Regions from separate parts of the Homo sapiens genome. Here region 2 is reported to be linked to region 1. Evidence: microRNA targets listed by miRTarBase, many of them from high-throughput screens and not tested one by one. Region 1 holds a microRNA gene; the other region holds the end of a gene's coding sequence.

Region 1 (3,529 bases):
AAATCGAGCTCCAGAGTCTGCGCTCTTGATACTGAAAAAGTGGATGACCCTGTACGATTCGACATGAGCAAAACGAACAGGACAGGGATAACCACTCTCCAAGTACCAAAGGTTAGCACGGAAAAGAAAGCCACTGCCTTGGGTGGACTTGGTACGTCTTCAAGGCGCGGTCCTGGGGATGAATTAGATGCTGAGGGTTAGTGGACCGGGTCACATACCCCAAGCAGAACATGCACACTCACGGACCGAGTAACAGCAGGGACCACAAAGCCACTACCCCACACGAGCGCCACCCCAGCCATCGGCCCGGGCTGATGACTTCCCGCTCAGGAAGCAGGGACCCAGACCACACACATCGTGCATGCTTTTGGCCCCGCCCACACTGCACCAGGAGAGGGGATGTCCCAGAGGCCACTGCCTTCCCTAAAGTCATCCAGGTGCCCGTGAAGTCCTCTCTGTGAAGTGGGGACCCGTGAACGATTTGCCACACACAAAACGGATACACACGGTCATGCACACACATACCGCATCCCTTGCTGAGTGTGGACTGGGTCCAAGACAAGGTTTGATACTCACAGAGAGCTTGCCCTTGTATATTCCATGTCAATAAACCGAATATACAAAGGGCAACCTCGCTTTAAGTACCAAACAATAGCACTGGGCAGGTTCCTCACTATCATTCACGGGGCCGGCCTCCTCTCCCGGGGTTCATCCTGGCGGGGGAGGGGGTGGGAGATGCGGGATCAGCAGACCAGGTGGCAAACACCACCTGCCAGCTGTGTGCCCATAGGTCAGCTCTCCATCCCAAAGGGGCCAGGAAGGGGCAGACGCCAGTGCCCCTTCACCAGAATCAGCCTCTTTTCCAGGCATCACTCCAGATTAGAACTTGTTCCTGAAAAGGAGATCCACCCCACGGGCCTTCCTGGGCACACGCAGAGCTCAGCTTCTCACTTTCTATAGGAATTCCCTGGGGTGGGACCACCATCTCCTTCCCAGTGTGGGCACCTCTCCAGGAAGTTTTCCTAAGGATGCACTCAGCACCGAGGTCCCAGGCACTGGATGAATTTACACCTTAGACAAAGCAAAGGCCCTGTGGTCACCATCCCTTCATCCATCTCACAGAGCCGTTGACACCAGTGTCATTCTCCATGCCAGCCCTTGCCCCACCCCTGCCAGAGGCTGGCATCGTGGCCATGAAGCCATGCTAAGAAAGAGCACAGGGTCAACAGTAGTAAACCCCACGTACCCCCAAGTAACTGAGGAAGCAGACCCACAGCCCATTCCCCACAGTGGTCTCTCCTTCAAGAAGGGGAGAGGAGCGGGAGCCGCCTGGTCCAGGTGGCAGGTTATGTGACTCATTACCCAGGCGTGGTGCTCACCTCTCTTCAGCTGGACGTTCGCTTTCCTTGGGCTGAGGATGCTGCGAATGTCCTTCCTGAAGCTGGCTTCGGGTCCAGATGACCCCCATGGCAGTCGGGGTGTAAAAAGCCGGCAGTCACACGGCCCAAGGAGTGTCTCCACAAACACAGAACAAGAGTCCCATTCTCAGGCAGCCATCCTAGGTGTGAGCAGAAAGCCAGCAGTCAGAGACGGGGCACAGACATCGAGGCAGAAGCAGGCGCCCTCTGACCTCCCACATGCACGCACCTGGTGCGGGGCTGACAGCTCCCACGGCTCATCCCCAGCGCTGCCTTCATGGGCAATCACAAATGACAAATAGAAGCAAACCATTCTTACAGATTCAGCCTGGGGACTGCGAGCTGGATCATGAACACCCAAGCATCAAAAAAAAAAAGCGCTGATGAGCACACCTCAGCCCCTTCCCCAAGGTCAATACCACCTCCAGGAAGCCCTCCTGGGGCTGGCCTACCAGGCTCGAAAACAGCATAGACAGAGCCAGTGCTCCGTGGTCCACCATCACTGCTGTCTGTGTTCCCCTTGAAATGATCCAACATCCAGGTCCCCCTTCTAAGGCTGATGCTGGGAACAGGAAGCCTTCTGTGTATGACTTGGTACCAAGAAGAGGCAGATCAATGTGTGATTTATCCTTAAAAAAGCAAACCACCATTAAACTTGGAGCACACAAAAAGGTCCCTCCTCTCCCACTGCTTCCAGGGAGTCCACAGGAAGAACCAGCATAGAGGGCGAAGGCAGAACCCAGGGGCAGCGTCACAGCCAACCTCACGTTCCCGGACATGGAAGCCAGGCCATACCTGAGAGGGGCTGACATCCGAGGCTTTGTCCTGGAGACAAGCAGGGTATGAGTGTCTTCTCCGACAGTTTGATACGCAAATGAGAGTCTCCCCCTGTATATTCGCCATTAATCAAGTGAACATACAAAGGGTATCCTCTCTTTAAGTACCAAAGGGTGGCTCAAAGAGCAGGTGAGGACCATGCCGGGTCTTTGCCGGAGTGGACATCTCCTCCTGCGAGGCCTGAGACCAAGGGGGAGGGGCCCGGTGACAAGCCTCATCTGGCTGACCCTGGAGCTGGGCCTGCACCTTGCACATTGTGGCCTGGCCCCGAAAGGTGGCACATCCAGGACTCCCTGCAGGCGAGACTGGCTTCTAAACAAGGGAACAGGTAGGCATGACTATCAGTGTGCTCAGCATGCATGGGTGAACCTGCTTCAAATACCCACAAGCTACATGGACAATGGAACCATCACCTTTCTCCAAAGGGGCACAGGGTGTGAGGGCTCAGCCCGGCAAGACATGGAGTTATCAGAGAAGAAGGCATCTGCAGGCATTCTCAGAGCTGGAGAGCGCTGAGACAATGTCTCTCCTCTGAGGCTGGTTGTCCTAGAGATGACCAGATCCAAGAATGTGTCACCTGTACCTACCTCGAAACAAACAAAAAGAGGGCCCCAGCGTCAGACTCTAGCGACAAAGGAGTCCTGAAGACCAGACACACCTGCCCAAGGCACACTCAGGTGCAATCACTGGACAATGTGCTCCGAGGACTGGCCATTGGAGTCCAGCGACAGTCCCAGAGGGCACAGGCAGGCTCAGGGAGCTCCACCAGTAACTTGCCTTAGAACAACCTGACATCCATGTGCTTCCCTCAAGGCTGACACTCTCTCAAGGATGGAGACCACCAGGGAGTGGCAGGTCAGGGGAGTAGCAGGTGAGAAGCAGCATCAGCTCTGCGCTCCACCATCCACCACCCATTCGTGTGTCCGGAGAGGTGCGAGGTTAGTGCTGGACGCAGGAAGCCCTCTGGGTATGACTTGGTATGGAGAAGAGGCAGATCCATGTGATTTATCCTTAAAAAAAGCAAACCACCATTAAACTCAGTGCACACAAAAAGGACCCTCCTCTCCCACTGCCTCCAGGGAGTCCACAGGAAGAACCAGCACAGAGAGCGAAGGCAGAACCCAAGGGCTAGGATCACAGCCAAGCTCACGTTCCCAGACAGGGAAGCCAAGCCGTACCTGAGAGGGGCTGACATCCGAGGCTTTGTCCTGGAGACAGCAGGGTCTGAGCGTCTTCCTCGACAGAGTTTGATACGCAAATAAGAGTCTCCCCCT
Region 2 (3,000 bases), not on the chromosome of region 1:
ATTTTACAATTTTTAACAAAAGCAGTGAAGACACTAAATAACCCAGTGGCGACCTCTTCAAAGTGCAGTGTCCTTGGTCACCAATGCAGATGCTACTGGGGCAGCCAGCGGGCTCAGAGGGTCCAACTCCAGACACTGCATCCATGGCTGTCCTAGACTGAGTTGCACTTGTAAAAGAGATGGTCCCACACCTACTAAAAAAACAAGCTACTCTAGTATCAATATGACATCACTCTTTTACCATCAATCATATTGCAAAACCATAGTATTTAACGACCAATAAACAGCCAAATACCTAATGCCACATTGTCGTTCAATTTACCTGGCTGGTTAATATCAGTCTGTGTTTGAGTATTTCTTTTGAGCACACAAAAACAAATGTATAGTCACTTGATGAGGAAATTCTTCACTTTGACTCAAATGGATTCACCATGCTGTCAGTTATGAAAACAACTCTAATTTTAATCTCCACAGGGCAACCTTCACTTTTCACAGCAGTTCTAAAACTGACCTACAGAAAAGTTCAAGATTTTTTAAAAAATTTGGCTACCATACTATGTTTCTTATTTAATTTTCTCTAATCAATACTACTCTTACGTTCCAAATATTTCATGGGAAATTTTTCCCTCAAACTTAATATGTTTCTTAAACAAATTGAAGCCACTAAAGTTCCTGTTTAAACCACTGATAACTGCCCCAGTTAAAATAATAATAATTTAAAATGATTACACTTCAAATAAAGGTACTAAAATCACGCCCCCCAAATTTGTAAGCGCTTTTGTTGTTATTGGGTACTCACTGTGAATAGAAGTAAATGTACTTGACCTGTATGAGAATAAACATTTTATCAAGTACAGCAAAAAAAACGGAACTGATTGTGAAAGCCATGGGGATGGGACTTTAAAACAGCGGTAAGACGCTGGTTTATCACCAGAAACCTCATGTGCCTCTGTGCACTTGAAGTAAAGACCACATTTGAGCAGGCCTGGTGGGCTGGCACAGGCCTCAGAACAGGTGCTGTTTGTGTGAATTCTCCTCCCTGCATTGTCCATTCTGTTCTAGGGCAGTCTGATTCTGGCAACAGGAGTCTCTAAGTTCCAATCACTCACTCACAAAAGAGTTTTCTGTAATCCCTTTTGTGGAAAAAAATGGAGTTTTTCTGATATGCAAAGCAACTTCTACCAGTCTGACAAAGTAGGTAAAATCGATGACACCCTAAAATAAAAACCTGGAGTGAACTGGTGCTCCAGAAAGATGCTGAATGGCCACAGTGCATGTGGTGATGTCTCCATGCTGAGGTTTCAGGCAGCACAGCACTAAGTATCAGGTGACCTGTGGTCCCACCAGAGCATAGTCCTCATGAAATAGGCCTAACCAGATACCTTTTAACTCATCTTTATTTTGGTTGCAAAGATGTGGTTTACTTAGCTACTTACTATTTGTTCCCATTTGAAGTCTCAGAGCTTGCCAAGTTAAACACCGCCTTCAGTACCGAGCTGCTATACAAGAACATTATAAAATACAAAGTATAAACTAAGATAATCCTCTTTACAGAATTCAGATTAGTGCATTAAAACAACATTGATTTAAAAAGGGAAGTGAGATAACTGGCAAACCTCCAATTGCTTTTTTAATGAAGGATGACACAAAATGGCACGCAAGGTAAACACTAAATTTTGTCAGGTGCTCAAAAACAGTTAATTGTGGGAAAGTTACTTTCCAAAAGTAATTTTGACCTAAAAATATTAACCATTATTCTATAAGACATAAGGGAAGGTAAATAATGGCCCACAAAACCAGATGATATGGTTAAGATAACTAGTTTAGTGGAATAACAAACTGGGGTCTTAAGAATCCAAACGCAATAGGTATTGGTATTGGTTGTTCATACTCTTCTTCCAAATTATGTTAAACATTTTTAGTAACTACACTTTCCCCCGTAAACATCAGACTTAAATAGACCATATGTAAAAACAACCTATCCTTAGTAATTTTACTAGGCAATCTACAGCAAAAGCTTAATATATACACAGAAAGAGTATCAAATAAACTAGAAAAGTATTCACCGACTTCAGGGTAAAAAAGATCTTAAAAGAAAACCAACAAAAAAATGAAAGACACTTTGTGCTGTTGTGAACCAGAAAAATACAACCCATGTATAGACCTTAATTATTTTACATTATTGAGAATATTTTCCCTGCTGAAGCAAATCAAAATTAAATTTGAGAATTTTAATTGAAGTAACACACATCTAGGTGTGTCACAGTGACAGGGAGATGCAAACAGAATACACACACCTTTAAATTTACGAATTCCCAAAACTAAGTCAAGCAGGGTAAATAAATTATAAATGAAAGGCATATGCAATGTGGGCAAAAACTTAACAACTATTAAATTGAAGACCAAGGGAGTTATGTCAGCAGTGACATTTAGAAAATCTTTCAGTATTAGAAAATATCAGATTTAATCCAAAGGAACCACCCCAACCCCCCCAATAAAAATAACAAAGTATGGGAACCATCCTTTATACAATAGCTTTAAAATAATAATTAAAAAAACATGATTACAGGAATCTTCCTACATAATTTAGACAATGTAGTGCGACAGTGTGCTCCTTTATAACTTCAGTGGTTCAATCCCCATATGATGAGACTGATAATCGCAACTCCAATGACAAGGATAAGAATGATGATGCACAGGGTTTTTCTGGATTTGCGCTGCAGACGCAAAAAACAAAACAAAACAAAAAAACATGTTTACAGATTTAGTGGAGTACCTCTACAGCAACTAAAAATAATTTGGTTCATTTCTAGAGTAAAATCAGTAGTAGTATATTGCCCTCAAATTTTTGACTGTGTTTTTTTGTTCCTCAAAAATCTCTTTAATACATATGGCACTATTCTTTCAAAAAAATTCTTGAACTAATGCTACAATTAAGGGAGCAATTTTTCAACTTTCATTGGTAATTTTTCTAAGGGTGTGGCTGACCTTAAGAAAGAA

The links. Region 1 holds the annotated microRNA hsa-miR-1185-2-3p (AUAUACAGGGGGAGACUCUCAU, at 2,293-2,314, opposite strand). A microRNA usually pairs through its seed, bases 2 to 8, with sites in the 3' UTR of a target mRNA and lowers its output. Matches are read on the target gene's strand: a 7mer-m8 pairs with bases 2 to 8, a 7mer-A1 pairs with bases 2 to 7 and ends in A, and an 8mer does both.
Region 2: miRTarBase lists STX7 as a target of hsa-miR-1185-2-3p. Seed matches in the 3' UTR shown: 7mer-A1 at 2,525-2,531.

The regions. Positions count from the first base shown.
Region 1 is chr14:101,043,035-101,046,563 of GRCh38, reverse strand. MIR1185-2 (microRNA 1185-2) reads right to left here and starts at 2,366; the gene lies at 2,281-2,366. It overlaps MIR381HG (MIR381 host gene), which reads right to left and starts at 1,407. Exons shown (of 3, transcript NR_104192.1): 1 at 1,380-1,407. It overlaps MIR381 (microRNA 381), which reads right to left and starts at 644; the gene lies at 570-644. It overlaps MIR1185-1 (microRNA 1185-1), which reads right to left; the gene lies at 3,502-3,529. It also overlaps MIR487B. RefSeq lists enhancers at 1-298, 299-799.
Region 2 is chr6:132,458,134-132,461,133 of GRCh38, forward strand. It overlaps STX7 (syntaxin 7), which reads right to left. Exons shown (of 10, transcript NM_003569.3): 10 at 1-2,717. The coding sequence ends at 2,625. Among named protein-coding and RNA genes, the nearest start is that of STX7, 53 kb to the right of the region's middle.